Regions from separate parts of the Homo sapiens genome. Here region 1 is linked to region 2. The links come from fine-mapping of genetic effects on gene expression. A gene starts in region 2. The other region holds a variant in brackets. All regions are shown on one strand. Distances are between the middles of the regions.

Region 1 (8,331 bases), 28 kb before region 2:
CCAGTTAGCATAACTAGTGGCACTTACCTGAGCCTTAGAACTGGAAAAGGGAAAAAGAATAAATGTGTATACAGATAGCAAGTATGCTTATGTAATCCTACATGCCAATGCTGCAATATGGAAAGAAAGGGAGTTCCTAACCTCTGGGGGGAACCCCCATTAAATACCACAAGGCAATTATGGAGTTTTTGCATGCAGTGCAAAAACCCAAGGAGGCGGCAGTCTTACACTGCCAAAGCCATCAAAAGGGGAAGGAGAGGGGAGAACAGCAGGATAAGTGGCTGGCAGAGGCAGGGAAAAACCAGCAGAAAGGGAAGAGAGGAAGAGACAGAGGGAGTCAGAGAGAAAGAAAGAAAGAGACAAAGTCAAAGAGACAGAGACAAAGAGGGAGTCAGTGAGAGAGAGAGACAAAGAAAAAGTCAAAGAGAAAGAGAGATGGAAGTAGTAAAGAAAAAACAGTGTACCCTATTCCTTTAAAAGCCAGGGTAAAGTTAAAACCTATAATTGATAATTGAAGGTCTTCTCTGTAACCCTGTAACACTCCAATACCACCTTGTTGTCAGTGTAAACAAGGGCGTAGCGCGAAAGCACTGAGGCCACTGACAACCCATAGCCTTCCTATCAAAAATCCTTAACCCAGCAGGTTTCCTAACAGGGGATCTAAATCTTAATCACCATACAAAGGTCCAATCAGACATAGGAGGAACTCCCTTCAGGACAGGACGATAGATGGTTCCTCCCGGGCGATTAAGGAAAAACGACACAATGAGTATTCAGTAAATGATAAGGAAACTCTTGTAGAAACAGAGTTAGGAAAATTGCCTAATAATTGGTCTGCTCAAACTTGCAAGCTGTTTGCACTCAGCTGAGCCTTAAAGTACTTACAGAATCAGGAAGGAGCCATCTATACCAATTCTAAGTTAATATACACTAAACGAGGTCTTATTAATAGCAAAGAATAATTGAAATCCCAAACTTAAAAGGTTTTCAACAAAAGTAAAGTTTGCTAAAAGTTAACAGTGTAAACATATATTATCCTAACTTCTAATCTTGTGGAAATCAGACCCTATCAATACTCTTCAAAGCTCAAGTCCGTCAGCACAGAGCCATACAACTAATACCCCTATTTATAGGGTTAGGAATGGCTACTGCTACAGGAACCGGAATAGCCAGTTTATCTACTTCATTATCCTACTATTACACACTATCAAAGGATTTCTCAGATAGTTTGCAAGAAATAACAAAATCTATCCATACTCTACAATCCCAAATAGACTCTCTGGCAATAGTGACTCTCCAAAACCCCTGAGGCGTAGACCTCCTCACTGCTGAGAAGGGAGGACTCTGCACCTTCTTAGGAGAAGAGTGTTGTTTTTACACTAACCAGGCAGGGATAGTACGAGATGCCGCCCAGCGTTTACAGGAAAAGGCTTCTGAAATCAGACACCACCTTTCAAACTCTTGTACCAACCTCTGGAGTTGGGCAACATGGCTTCTCCCCTTTCTAGGTCCTGTGGCAGCCATCTTGCTGTTACTCACCTTTGGGCCCTGTAATTTTAACCTTCTTGTCAAATTTGTTTCCTCTAGAATGGAGGCCATCAAGCTATAGATGGTCTTACAAATGGAACCCCAAATGAGCTCAACTAACAACTTCTACCGAGGACCCCTGGACCAACCCGCTGGCCCTTCCACTGGCCTAAAGAGTTCCCCTCTGGAGGACACTACAACTGCAGGGCCCCTTCTTCGCCCCTATCCAGCAGGAAGTAGCTAGAGTGGTCATCAGCCAAATTCCCAACAGCAGTTGGGGGTATCCTGTTTAGACGGGGGATTGAGAGGTGACAACGTGCTAGCAGCCCTCGCTCGCTCTCGGCGCCCCCTCGGCCACGGCGTCGGCTCTGGCTGTGCTCGAGGAGCCCTTCAGCCCACGGCTGCACTGTAGGGGCCTCCTCTCTGGGGCTGGCCGAGGCCAGAGCCGGCTCCCTCTGCTCACAGGGAGGTGTGAAGGGAGAGGTGCAGGCGGGAGCCAGCGTGGGTTCCGGGTGGGCGCAGGCTCGGCAGGCCCCGCACTTGGCGCCACCAGCCAGCGCCTGCTGGGCTTGATCGGGGGACAAGCTCCCACTGGGCTGTCGGAGTGCCCAGGCTAGGTGCCGCAAAGTCCCGCAGCCAGTGCCATTGAGAGGTGAAGCCAGCTGGGCTTCTGGGTCGGGTGGGGACCTGGAGAACTTTTCTGTCTAGCTAAAGGTTTGTAAATGTACCAATCAGCACTCTGTGTCTACCTAAAAGTTTGTAAACACACCAATCAGCACTCTGTGTCTAGCTAATGGTTTGTAAACGCACCAGTCAGCGTTCTGTGTCTAGCTAATCAGGTAGGGGACTTGGAGAACTTTTGTGTCTTGCTAAGGGATTGTAAACGCACCAATCAGCACTCTGTGTCTAACTAAAGGTGTAAACGCACCAATCAGCGCTCTGTCAAAACGGACCAATCAGCTCTCTGTAAAATGGACCAATCAGCTCTCTGTAAAATGGACCAATCAGCAGGCTGTGGGTGGGGCCAGATAAGGGAATAAAAGCAGGCCACCCAAGCCAGCAGCACCAACCTGCTGGGTCCCCATCCATGCTGAGGAAGCTTTGTTCTTTCGTTCTTTGCAATAAATCTTACTGCTGCTCACGCTTTGGGTCCGTGCCACCTTTAAGAGCTGTAACACTCACCGCAAAGGTCTGCAGCTTCACTCCTGAGGCCAGCAAGACCAGGAACCCACCAGAAGGAACTAACACCTCCAGACAGGCCGCCTTTATGAACTGTAACACTCACCGCAAAGGTTTGTAGCTTCATTCCTGAAGTCAGAGAGACCAAGAACCCACCAATTCCAGACACAGAACAATAGAAATTTATGAGTTCTGGTGAGGACCCTCTTTCTAGGTACAGGCTGCTGACCTCTTGTTGTATCCTTGCATGGCAGAAGGTAGAGAGAAGCAAGGTCTCTCGGAACTCTTAAAAGGGCATTCATCCCATTCAGGAAGGCTCTGCTCTCATGATCTCATCTAATCCTAATCACCTCCTAAAGACCCCTTCCTAATACCATCACGATGGGGGGTGGGGGCCTCAAAATATATATCTGGGAGGAACACAAACAAACACGCAGTCTATAACACAACTTTAAGAGGGAAATGTAATCACAGCACTTTGGGAGACTGAGGGGGCATCACTTGAGGTCAGGAGTTCAAGATCAGCCTGGCCAACATAGCGAAACCCTGTCTCTACTAAAAATACAAAAATGAGCCGGGTGTGGTGGCACACATCTATAACCCCAGCTACTCAGCAGGCTGAGTCAGGAAAATCACTTGAACCCAGGAGGCGGAGGTTGCAGTGAGTAAGCCAAGATCGTGCCACCACATTCCATCCTCGGTGACAGAGTGAGACTCCATCTCCAAAAAAAAAAAAAAGAAACATCTCAAGCCAAACAACAGCAACTTCAAGTAAAAAAAAAAAAAATTAGCATCATATTTAAAGTAGTAATATTTTCATTAAAGTTAGAAACAAGGCCAGGTGCAGTGGCTCACA[T/C]CTATAATCCCAACACGCTGGGAGGCGAAGGCAGGCCAATCACTTGATTCCAAGAGTTCAAGACCAGCCTGGACAACGCCGCCAGACGCCCTCTCTACCAAAAAAATACAAAAGTTAGATGGGTGTGGTGGTATGCACCTGTAGTCCCAGCTACTCAGGAGGCTGAGGTGGGAGAATAGCTTGAGCCCAGGAGGTCAAGGCTGCAGTGAGCTGTGACAGCACCACTGCACTCCCGTCTGGGCAACAGAGCAAGTCCCTTTCAGAAAAGAAAGAAAAAGAAAGAAAGAAAAAAAAGTGGGGGAGGACAGGGGAGGGTGTTTTGTTTTTAAACATTACTAAGCAAATTGCTATCTAGAGACCTCCTCTAGTAAAGTTATACATCTAGTGGTGTGCTGGTAAATGTGTAACTACCAGCTTGGAGAAGAAAATGGCTATTTGCAGTGTTTGCCAATTTCTATAGTGTAAATACTCCCATCATGGTCAATTTCAATAATGGCCATGTTTAACAACCAGTTCACTTAAATTCCTACCAAAACAACAATCAGCTCTCATGAACCAGTCCACGCCAGCTCCAGCATCTACAGCTTACATGTAGACAACCATGTGGAGACATATGTGCTGGTAAGAACTACTTTCCTAGATACATTTAAGTGGAAAAAGGCAACAGAAGTTATTTATAATTGGGAACTGCCTGTATAATTTTTTTAATGTACATACAGACTTACATTTACATAGACTATCTTTTAAAGAATATTCAAGAAACCTGAACAAGATTGTGGAACTGGACTGGATGAGAAACTTTTTTTGTTTTGTTTGTTTTTTGAGATGGAGTCTGGCTCTGTCACCCAGGCTGGAGTGCAGTGGTGCAATCTCGGCTCACGGCAAGCTCCGCCTCCTGGGTTCACGCCGTTCTCCCACCTCAGCCTCCCCAGTAGCTGGAACTACAGGCGCCCACCACCACACCCGGCTAATTTTGTTTTTATATTTTTAGCAGAGATGGTGTTTCACTGTGTTAACTCAGGATGGTCTCGATCTCCTGACCTCATGATCTGCCTGCCTTGGCCTCCCAAAGTGCTGGGATTACAAGCATGAGCCACCACGCACAGCCCAGAAACTTTTTATTGTAAACCCTCTAGTAAGTTGCTTGAAGTATTTTTTTTTAATTACTGAATTACTTTTTAATAAAAATTACAATTTTGAAAAATTAAACATCATTAAATTTTTATTTTTACAATATAATTATCCTTCTCTTGACTTCATATCTTTCCTTCTTTGGGGGGTGCTTAAAATAATTCTCACTAGATTCAATAACCCCTAGCCAAAACTGGGTCAGTAAACCAAATAAACTGAAATTAGAATGGTATTTTTTTCATTTTTTTTCCAAATAGCAAAACTGCTGTGGTTCAACTTCAAGCCATTTACCAAAACAATTACCTAAGTAATCATTTCACCTACAACTACTTTTAGTTAAAAAAAAACAAATTAAGCCAAGTATGCAAAGCACACTCAGATATCCTCCAACAGTCCAGCATTCATGAATCTACACAGCAAAACCATTTTGCATCTCCCAGTCCTCATGGTTTCACATGGAAATCATCAGGATCTAATTAGTGACTCAGAGAAAGAAAGCAATAATAGAGTGCCGTGGCGCGCCTGCAAAATTTATAGGTCACTAAAAGTCACCCATAGCAACAAGGCTTCTTGTCTCAGGTCTGCAGTGTGTCACATGCCAGACTCCTCAGACTCAACAGGCAGCTCTGCACATCCACAATCAAGGAGCTTGTTTTCCACACTTCATGGAGACTTCCCTCTTGTCTAGTTTGACTTCCTCTCCATTTTTAGCATCAGAAACACAAGGAAATAAAATTCGTGGTTAGATTGATGTTTCTTCCCCCTGCTCTTTCATCTCCTGCTATGCCAGGAAGTAGCATTAAAGTTCTATCATGCGGTTGCCCAACAGGACACAGGAACCCAGGACCTTCCAACCTGATGACTAGTGAGTGCAATACAGAGAGCTGGAGCTGAGGCTTAATTACACAGGAAGGAGTAGCACTGAAGTAAGATCAGGTTGCTGAATCACGAAGGAGGACATTTTGCAACATATAGATGATATATATACACTCACATTTAAAAGCATTTTTTCTTTACCATGACAAACCACTCGACAACAGGAACATAAAAATGGAGATCTAAGATGGGAAAGGGGAGATCTGTTCTCTCTGCTCTTTTCCACACCCTTCTATATCGAAAGAATTCCCCATTTTCCCCATTATCAACACAAATCTGAAACCATTTGGTAAATATTAAGACAAGCATTAAATCTGAAGGCACTAAGATCTGGGGAGAAAAAACACATACAAGAAATTAAATTAATTTGTGACACCACAAATCCACACAGAATCCAATGGTTATATGAAACGGGCATTATTCCTTAAGACATAGATTTTCATATTTGATAATAATGACATTTGCAAAATCCTAATAGATTTCTTCAAAATGTCTGTGAGCTCTTAAGAGTTTCTGAAGTCAAGGTCAATCGAGGCAGTGAAATAGAAAATCTGAAGATTTTTCAGCCAGGGATGGTGGCTCGCACCTGTAATCTCAGCATTTTGGGAGGCAGAGACAGGAGGATCACCTGAGATCAGGAGTTAGAGACCAGCCTGGTCAACATGGCGAAACCCCATCTCTACTGAAAATACAAAAATTAGCCAGGCATAGTGGCATGTGCCTGAAGTCCCAGTTACTTGGGACTCAGAAGGCTGAGGCCGGAGAATGCCTGAACCCACGAGGTAGAGGTTGCAGTGAGCCAAGATCGCACCACTGCACTCCAGCCTGGGCGACAGAGCAAGGCTCTGTCTCAAAAAAATAAATGAAACACTGAAGATTTTTAAATAGTAACTTGTATTATTCATAAAATAAATAATTTTATATTAATGTACATTAACTTATGAAAATGCAGGAGACTTAAAATCATAACTTTCAAGATGACCTAAAATGCAAACCACACAAACTAAAACTATAACTTAATGTGGCATTAAGTCAGAATGGCCAGAAGTCACAGTAACTATGAAGTGATATGAAATCAACCCGTTTCTTCTAACATATTCTTCATTCAATATTGCTGAAGAGCAAGACCATGCAATCAAAAAATCAAATGTTACAGAAAGAAATGATACATGCTGCAACAACACACATGGTCTTCAAAAGAGAAAAAAACAGATAAAAGCATTTATCATTTTTAGAGTCTGGCACAAGAGATGCAAAACGGAAAACAAAACAGCCATGACATTCAGCAAGTATATACGACCAGATTTAAAGGCACTGTTTATTGCTCGATTCAGTTGTAAAGCTAATAAATAAATGGTTCAAGCTCCATTTAAAACCAGAGATACAGTTGCATTTTTAGCTTTCAATCTCAAGCAGTCAGACCCAGCTAAATATTAATTATTACCACTGCAAGGGGAATGCTAGACCTCTATAAAGTCCACCTTAAGGTGAACATTAACCAAGATGGTGTTTTACATGGATTAACTGGATTACTTTAAACTGCAGGCTATTATAAGACATACTAGACAATATTTAATTGTACACAGCACAAAATCACAAATACCAATAAACAGCTATCCTCAGTAAGAGCTAGCCTGACTGACCACACTTACCGTTTTCCACATAGGGATGAAAGGGGAGGACAAGGGCAAGGATGACCCTGCCTCTAGTTGGCTCCAAGACACTTCTGATATCTTTTAACAAAGTCAGGGGCTGATCACAGCGGTCCAGCAAGTTCAGGCAGCTGATGACATCATACTGGAACCCCGTATTCTGCCATTCATTTATACCAAGGACTCTAGAAAAATCAGAAATAACTGTATTAACATAAAGTCCCTCTAAAGACATCTTTAAAAATAACTGAGATGACAATAAAGGCTTTAACTTTGTCTTCTAAATTAAGTTCAAAATCTTCTGTTATAATTTATGTTTGCAATAATGACATGGCCAAGGAAGAGAAAAATAGCAACCATTTTTTTTTTTTTTTAATTTTTTCTTTTTTGAGACACAGCCTCACTCTGTTGCCCAGGCTGGAGTACAGTAGAGCAATCTCGGCTCACTGCAACCTCTGCCTCCCAGGTTCAAGTGATTCTCCTGCCTCCGCCTCCCCAGTAACTGAGATTACAGGCAGTTGCCACCATGCCCGGCTAATTTTTGTGTTTTTAGTAGAGACGGGGTTTTACCACATTGGCTAAGCTGATCTTGAACTCCTCACCTCAAGCGATCCGACTGCCTCGGCCTCCCAAAGTGCTGGGATTACAGGTGTGAGCTACCACGACTGGCCCATATTTCTTTAAATTTAGCATTTCACCTATTTCCAAATCTCAACACATACGAAGTTTCCTTTACAAGAACTAATCATGTTTAATAAGTATGAAGATGTAACCTGACAAAGTTATGAAACTAAAACATCAAATTCTTTTGAATATCAGTTAATGAACAAGAGTCCAGCTTTTTACCATTCATTGGAACTTAATCAAAAAATGCATCATATAATTAATGTTTTCTATTCCTAGGATCCCTTCTATTCTTAAAAATGGCTGGGAGTGGTATAAAATAATTTCCATTGATAACTTATGACCTTTGAGCACATTTCCGTTCCCAGGAAAGACATATTTCATACTTGAGAATCTTCATATCTGAATAACTATACAGAAAAGGACCGGGCACGGTGGCTCACGCCTGTAATCCTAGCACTTTGGGAGGCCAAGGCAGGCGGATCA
Region 2 (8,331 bases):
TTTACTGGAAGCTATTAGGGTCTTCTAGGGCACCTTCAAAGAGAAACATAAAGACTCCTGGTATATCCAGCACAAGAAAGAGATTCTAGTGTTCTGTGAAACTGAAGCAAACACTTGGGGTTTCAACACAGATTATGAGGAAGCAAAGAAATCCTTTCTGAAGTCTCTTTGGTATTCAGCTGCAAAGGCCTCCAGACTCTCGAAGGCAGTTCAGAGAAGGACGCCAATCCATCAGTGTCTGTCCGGCTTAGCTGGCTGACTATCCTTGAAGCATTGTTAACTCATGCCTGACTCCAGTCTGCCTCCACAGGGTAAGTGAGGGGTAAAGGGACAGGAAACACTCTGTCCTTTAGCACAGTGTTTGGCTCTGGCTATGCTGTCCAAGTATTTTTTCATTTGGGGGAAAAAAAAGGATTTTAATTCTTTCTTGAATTCTTCATCACTTGTGGCATAGCGCAGTTCTGAGCTTATATAAGAAAGTGAAAAAATAAGTCACAAAAATATACACATACTTGCAATTTTAAGTTACAACTTAATAATTCCAGATATTGAATGTTATCTGTGCTTTTAAAAAACCTTGCAGTATGTCACCCGGAGAAATCGTTGTGGTTTGGTTCAGCGAGTTCTATAACAATTTTTTCACTCCATCAATTGAGAAGCTACTGAACCGCTATTATTACCAAGAACCTGGGGCCTAAGGGTCCTTTCAAAGTTTCAGTAGCTCCATAATAGTTGCATTAACTTTAAGCACTAGGTGCAATGCATCAAAAAGAATAGATCCTAAGTTTTTTGTTGTTGTCTTTTTAAATTCTGAGTCTGCCAACATTGCAAAGTGACAATATCTACTAGTTTCTCACTGCCTGCCTCTATTTCTTCCCAGTGAGTCAATCTACCCACCCTGCAACCTGTGATTAAGAATATGCTGTTGGAGGCTGGTTGCAGTGGCTCACTCCTGTAATTCCAGCACTTTGGGAAGCCGATGTGGGAAGATCACTTGAGGCCAGGAGTTCAAGACCAGCCTGGCCAACATGGTGAAGCCCTGTCTCTACTAAAACTACAAAAATTAACCAGGTGTGCTGGCACGTGCCTGTAATCCCAGCTATGGAGAGGCTGAGGCATGAGAACCGCTTGAACCCAGGAGGTCGAGGATGCAGTGAGCTGAGATTGTGCCACTACACTCCAGCCTGGGTGACACAGTGAGACCCTGTCTCCAAAAAAAAAAAAAAGCTGTTTGTTAAGGAAGCTGGGAATTTCTCTTGGAAAAAGTCTTTATTCTGTAAGAAGCCACGTAGTAAATGTTTTAGGCTTGCAGGCCATACAGTAGCAAATATGCTGCTATTGTAGCCAGGGAGCTCATAGACCACAGGTAAATGAATGTGGTAGTTCTCTTTCAATAAAACTTTATTTGTGGGCTGGGTGTAGTACCTCACGCCTGTAATCCCAGCACTTTGGGAGGCCCAGGAAGAAGGATCACTTGAGGTCAGGAGTTTGAGACCAGCCTAACCAACATAGTGAAACCCCATCTCTACTGAAAACTACAAAAATTATCTGGGCGTGGTGGTGTTCACCTGTAATCCCAGCTACTCGGGAGGCTGAGACATCAGAATTGCTTGAACCTGGGAGGCAGAGGTTGCAGTGAACCAAAATTGGGCCACTGCGCTCCAGCCTGGGTGACGAAGCGAGACTCCATCTCAAAAAAAAAACACTTTATTTGTAGACACTGAAATAAATTTGAATTCCATAAATGAAACTTCATGTATTACAAAATGTTATTTTGATATTTTCTTGGTAACCATTTAAAAATATAAAACTATTCTTATTTCATAGGCTGTAAAATAAGTCTGTGAGACCAGTCTGGCCTCCCAGCCACTTCCCTGCTCTAAGTGAAACCCTGCTTCTTGCTTGCCCAAAGTGAAACATAATCCCAGTTTTGAAGCTAGCACACCAAACCAAGTTACTAAAATGGCACTGCTACTACAGTTTTAGAGCAGCTTTAGCCCAAAGGAGCCTTGCCTCTCCAAACTATACTAACAAAATAGCCATTTTTAACGAATAAACATTGCCCAAGATCTCTCTTTTAACCACAGAATCCTCCATCATAATTCCTTAATAAAATAACCAGAAGGAACACTTTTGCTAAGTATGGTTCAATCAAATCCACAACCCTACTTTTATGCAACTCCAAAAGGCCCAGATGTGGCTGGCTATGGAACTCACACACCCAACTGAACACTTAGAAGACCTTGTATAAAACTATTAATCTGAAGGAGGAAAAACAGTTACAGTTACTTCACAAGCAACGAAGTTATAAGGCAAACCCAGGATCCTGGAATATTAAGTGGAAAACAAATTATCAACTCCAGCCACAGTGCAGAAAGGACAGTTTCCTACTTTATCTCATGGTGGTTTCTACACACCTTTCTTCTGTTCCTTTTAATCTTTATTCATGCACGATTATTTTCATAATATGAATGTATTCATGTCAAAATAATGTCTGGATTCATTATTCTAAGGAAAAGAGTTGACCCATCCCCCAAATATTCAGAAAACACCATATTAAGTCTTCACCCTAAAGAAATTATCTGCTGAATTGTTAGTGAAGGGGTACACACACACACACACACACACACACACACACAGAATATAAATACGGTATCTGAAATAAACGTATCTGAAACCAGTATTAGTTTTCATTAGAACTTAACAGATTCAGCTTTTAAAAGGTACAGTCAGAAAGTATCCTCTGCTGGGAGATATTCTGAGGCTATGTCTACAGCTGCAATTCCGCCTCCATACACATCACAGTGTTGAAATAGTGTTTCAATTTTAAAATAAGTGCAATTCTTTTATGAGCACTAAAAACCTACCAAGTGGCTGCAGTAGGGGTAATCATGATAAGTGTTATAAATACCAATAGCTAAGAGACTCAACCATAATCCCCCATCAATGGAGATAAATCGCTTTTTCTCCTATCCAGGACCTTATTTCTATCAACTGCTTAAAAATGTTAAAAATGACATTTCTAATTCATTGTCTACCCCATTGTTCCATATGTGACATTCTGGTAACTGTACAGTCAACGGTACAGTACCTTTGAGTTGTCTCTATAAGAATGAACTAGTGTAAGCAAATAATCCATAGGAATAAATGTGGTTTTGCAATTTAAGTTTACATACATTCCTAACCATATCATACAAGTGATCAATGATACTGATATTGCACCTAACAAACTGCAATGGCTGGAGGCTTTCAAAAAAATTTACAGAAATTTAGGATTCCTTTAACAATAGAAAAAAGCCCAATATACATATTACTAAAGACTAAATGCTACTTTTCTAAATTGCTCTATCTCCTTCTTAGACAATTCTCTACCCTCATTAAAACACATGAAATCAACCTGGGTGTAAATTCTCTGAACACCTGGCATAATAAAAAAGTAATGTAGGAAAATGAGAAATATATGAAAATGATGAGACACAAGATGATATAGGGAATAATTAATACTCTATGGAAAAGCAAAATGTATTATAAATGCTAGCTATGACAAGCCAACACTCTGGCAGAGTTCAAAAGCCTCTTTTCAATGAATTTAACATTAACTGCAAACTATGTTAAGGTCATATACGAAATATCTCACTTAATTCTACAGTTAACCTGTACACGTTTAAGTGGCGCAAGACTGAGCTAATGAAAAGCCTACCTACCCGGTCACAGCGTAACGCTCACGATGCATAACTAAAACTCCCTCCCGTCCCGTTCTGTTTTAAAAACCCTTCCTGTAAAACTTGCATAATCTTCCTCCTCATCACACACAATCTTTCTAGCAGGCTGACTAAATCCAAGTTTAAAGGAGATCTCTGCTAGGTAGGAGGGGAAGGTTCCGTAGGATGGGAGCGACAACCTGTCAAACCCATTTTTTAAGTGCTTAGGGAGAAATGTCACCCCAATCAGCCTGGAGAGTTCAATGGCTTGCGATGTACAGTTACATTTCTTCACGACCCTTTGTACGTTCTGGGATTCAACGAGACAACAAGAGGGGCTGGCTTTTCGTTTTGTTTCTCGGGGTAATGGATCTGGCCGGGTCTCTTCAGTCTCAGGCCTCGGTGCCAGGCGGGCGCCCCCAGCCACGCTCTGGCCCCAAAGTTCCCCAGTCCCGCTGCCGGGCGTCCGCAGTCACCGCCCGGGACCCAGGAACAATGCGGGGCTCCGGGCCGCTCACGATCGGGCCCGGGAGGCCATGCCCCGCCTGCGCTGCGGAACAAAAGGCGCTCGCGGGGCCGCGGCCGGGTGCCCGGGGCTCGCGGAGTCGACGCCCGGCGGGGAAGGCGCGGGGAAAACTTTCCAAGGGGCCGAGGCGGAGGGGCGAGGGCCGGGCCGCCCCCTCGCGGAGCCGTCCCGCACAATAGCCGGGCCCAGCGCGGGAAGGCCGGGCCGCCACGCCCCCGCCCCGGCCCCGGCCCCAGCCCGTACCTGGTGGTTCTCCTTCCTGCCGCCCGCGGCCGCCGCCGGCCCACCCGGGCCGCTAGTCATGTTCACGTACAGGGAGCGGGTGAGCGGGCTCCGCAGCGTCCACATCCTCCGCGCCAGCCACACGGACGCCAGGCTCAGGCACAGCCAGCCCGCCAGCAGTCTCATCGGGGGCCGCGGCCGCTCGCTCGGATCACCGCCGGCGCCGGGGCGAGGAGGAGGAGGCACCGCCGCCTCCGGCCACCGCCGCCACCGCCCGAGCTCGAGCCATCGCGGCCGCCTTGCCCATCCAGCCCCCTTCAGGGCAAAGGCTGGGGGTGGGGAGGAGCAGCCGGCGCGCAGCCTCGGCACCTCCCCCTTCCCTTCCGGCCGCGGAACGCCGCTGCCCCCTGCACCAGTTTCCATCCGGAGCACTTACGAGCGGCCGCGTCGCTTTCTCCCCCGGCGCCCTCCCTCCGTCCAATGAGCGGGCCGCTGGGAGGCGGGACAAAGGGAGCGCGCATCCGCCCGGAGCGCGTTCTCGTGTCCCGGCCCTGCCTTGGCCTCTAGTAAATGGCGGAGGTGGTTTTAATTTTTTTGAGGGCTGAGGAGATCACTTCCGAAGGCGGTAACTGCAGCCTCCCTGCCCCTCCAAGGTGGTGCTGGAAGGACCTCCAGTCTTTCCTCGCCTCATCCCACTCCACGGCGGGACTTTGACAGGGTTACCTCTCGACCCTCATCCCACTCCACGGCGGGACTTTGACAGGGTCGTGCAGTTAACCCCGGGGGCGCAAAGAGGGGAGTCATTCCTTTCGTGCATCCTGACACACACAGGTTCTTCCCGGAGACGAATGGTGCCAGTGATGGTTGCCCGCTCGGATGCGTAGTTTCCAGTTTACATTTAGAACCGACCTGCCAGACTCCCTCCTCTACTCTCCCCACCACCACGACCCGCCTGCCCCGTTCCCCAAGCCTGAGAAGTTGCTGGCTACGTGTTTCTATAAAGAATGAGTGAAAATTCTGCCTTTTGGGGAAGCTACCGCAGCTGGGGTACCCACAAGTAATGTTTTAGATGTATTGATGGCCCTGCCCAAGAATGAAGACCTCAAGTTAGACTCCTTGGCTGCCTTGTTTCCTTGAATTAGCACAGGGAAGTTGGACCCAACACTCTTAAGAGTGAACTCAGCTCTGGGAGCAGTGTTTAACCCGGATATTTATTTGATCATTTATAACACGAGGAGACCTAGCAACATTTCAGAACTGAAGGGTTAGTTACACTGTGTTCCTGTCTGCAGTTCTTCCTGCTATTATCCAAGCCACAATTAAGGAGTAACATTTCGTGGGAGTCCCTAACTTTAATACTTTCCTAGGTTTGTTTGGAAAGTGCTTTTAATTTAACTGCACCAGAAATAATGTAAATGTGTCTAAGTTCAAAACAAAAGAAGTAAGCCTTTTGGTTAATTCAGCGTTGCACATCAGAGATTTTCATTTATGAAACAGTGGGGTGGTGAGCCACAGATGGGGAACAAAATCATTCCTTACCCAACAGCTTTTTTTTTTTTTTTTTTTTGAAACGGAGTGGAGTCTCGCTCTGTCTCCAGGCTGGAGTGCAGTGGCTCGATCTCGGCTCACTTCAAACTCCGCCTCCCGGGTTCAAGCAATTCTTCTGCCTCAGCCTCCCGAGCAGCTGGGACTACGGGTGCGCGCCACCATGCCCAGCTAATTTTTGTGTTTTTCGTAGAGACGGGATTTCACCATGTTGGCCAGGATGGTCTCCATCTCTTGACCTCGTGATCCGCCTGCCTCGGCCTCCCAAAGTGCTGGGATTACAGGCGTGAGCCACCGCACCTGGCCCAACAGCTCTTTCATTAGCTTTTAAGAATCTCAGCTTGGCACCTTTGGCTAACAAGGATATCTTGTTGCCTAATGTAACAGGCTGTAACAACAAACAAAAAGGCACAGGGTGGGTGGGGTTCGGTATTTTGTGTTCTCTCTTTCCAATATACTCCCTGACTGCTTCCTGCCAAAACCCCGAAAAGCCCAAGCCTTACTAAATCTAGTTCAAACCTCTAGTGGTCCTGGCCCAAGTCATCAAAAAGGAACTATGGTAGCAAGTCCAATAACTGTTTATTTACTATGACACCTCTCCTTCCTGTCTCTTAGGATCAGTGTAACAGACAAAGCAACTCTGTCACAAAAGGAAGCCTTCATCTTTTTAAAGTGGGGGTGAAAGCAGCAGGAGTGCATAAAATGGCATATTTCCTTTCTGAAGACAAAGGAGACAAAAAGGTATGCCCCAGCTATAGAGTGAGACCACATAGCTGTAGCTGAGAGACTGCAAAATGTTATCAGATGAACAAGCAAGTAGATGGCTGCTGTAGTCAGAAGGATTTTGGGGTCAGTTGACTGCCACGAAGCCTAACAGCTCAAAGGAGCAGATTTTGTTTTATATCTGAGCAGCTGGCCTAGAAAAATAAATCACTCATACATTTAAAATACTCTATAATAACCACCAAACACTCAAACCCATGCTATTTACATTTAGCAGGCACAGGAAGAAACCAGAGCATCCGATGATCAAATGATTTGCCTGAAGGTAGCAGAGTAAATTCAATAGCTGACCTTTTCATAGAACTTGGTATCCCAGCTCGTGGTCTTTCGATCCATCTAAGAAGCTTTGCTGTCTCTTCTCAGAGAGCCTCCTGAATTACAAATGAGGAGAAACGAAAACAGCAAGAGTAAATATACGAAGCAGAAGTTCAGATTGCCCACTGGGGACAGCCCCCTTCCTTCATCTACTAGAATGTCACTACCGTATATTAAAACCTCAATTCTCCATAATGGAGACGGGAAGGGGCAAGATGACACAAAAAGCCAAATAGCCAATACTCGTTCTAACATGATCTTGAGATGCAGTTAGTAATATTCAAAAGATACACAAATGACCCTCTGCACCGAACTCTGCTCATTGACCCCAGGTGTCCCACTTGGGTCACAGCCCTGTACACAGGCCCAAAATTTTGGCGGGATCACTTTCCTATCTAGATCTCTAGGCAAAGGCTTTTTGTTATTGTTGTTCTTTGAAGTTACAAAGCTTGGCATTTTCATATTCTCTTTTCAATTACAAAGTATCATGTTAAGAGAATCCACAAGCAGAGAGTTTGGATCTGTACAAAACCTATTGATGATTGTTATCTCCTTGAAGAGATAATGATTTAAAAAGAACTCATATAGACCAGGCAGGGTGGCTCATGCTTGTAATCCCAGCACTTTGGGAAGCCAAGGCAGGTGGATGGCTTGAGCCCAGGAGTTCAAGGCCAGCCTGGGCAACATGGAGAAACCCCGTGTCTACAAAAAATACAAAAATAAGACAGGCGTGGTGACATGCACCTGTAGACCCATCTACTCAGGAGGCTGAGGTGGGAGGATCACCTGAGCCTGGGAGGCTGAGGCTGCAGTGAACTGAGATTGTGCCACTGCACTCCAGCTTGGGTGACCCTGTATCAAAAAATAAAAATAAAAATAACTCATATAATCACTTTTTTTTTCCCGAGATGGAGTCTTGCTCTGTTGCCCAGGCTGGAGTGCAGTGGCACGATCTCGGCTTGCTGCAACCTCTGCCTCTCGGGTTCAAGCAATTCTCCTGCCTCAGCCTCCTGAGTAGCTGGGATTATAGGCACCTGCCACCACGCCTGGCTATTTTTTGTATTTTTAGTAGAGATGGGGTTTCACCATGTTGGCCAGGCTGGTCTCAAACTCCTGACCTCGTGATCCGCCTGCTGCAGCCTCCCAAAGTGCTAGGATTACAGGCGTGAGCCACTGCACCTGGCCATAATCATGTTTTTATGGACAGATATTTTTTATGCTTCTTAATATTGTTTTGTA

The links. PIP is the estimated chance that this variant, and not a neighbour inherited with it, causes the effect.
Region 1: its variant is fine-mapped to the expression of METTL9 in whole blood (TOPMed, PIP above 0.99).

The regions. Positions count from the first base shown.
Region 1 is chr16:21,624,006-21,632,336 of GRCh38, reverse strand. METTL9 (methyltransferase 9, His-X-His N1(pi)-histidine) reads right to left here. Exons shown (of 5, transcript NM_016025.5): 4 at 7,222-7,406. Among named protein-coding and RNA genes, the nearest start is that of IGSF6, 24 kb to the left of the region's middle. The variant T/C (reference allele first, on the strand shown) is at 3,563.
Region 2 is chr16:21,596,038-21,604,368 of GRCh38, reverse strand. It overlaps METTL9 (methyltransferase 9, His-X-His N1(pi)-histidine), which reads right to left and starts at 4,792. Exons shown (of 5, transcript NM_016025.5): 1 at 4,471-4,792. The coding sequence starts at 4,635. It overlaps LOC101927814 (a long non-coding RNA gene), which reads left to right and starts at 4,984. Exons shown (of 3, transcript NR_110930.1): 1 at 4,984-5,713; 2 at 6,610-6,735. RefSeq lists an enhancer at 3,513-4,077 and a silencer at 4,186-4,805.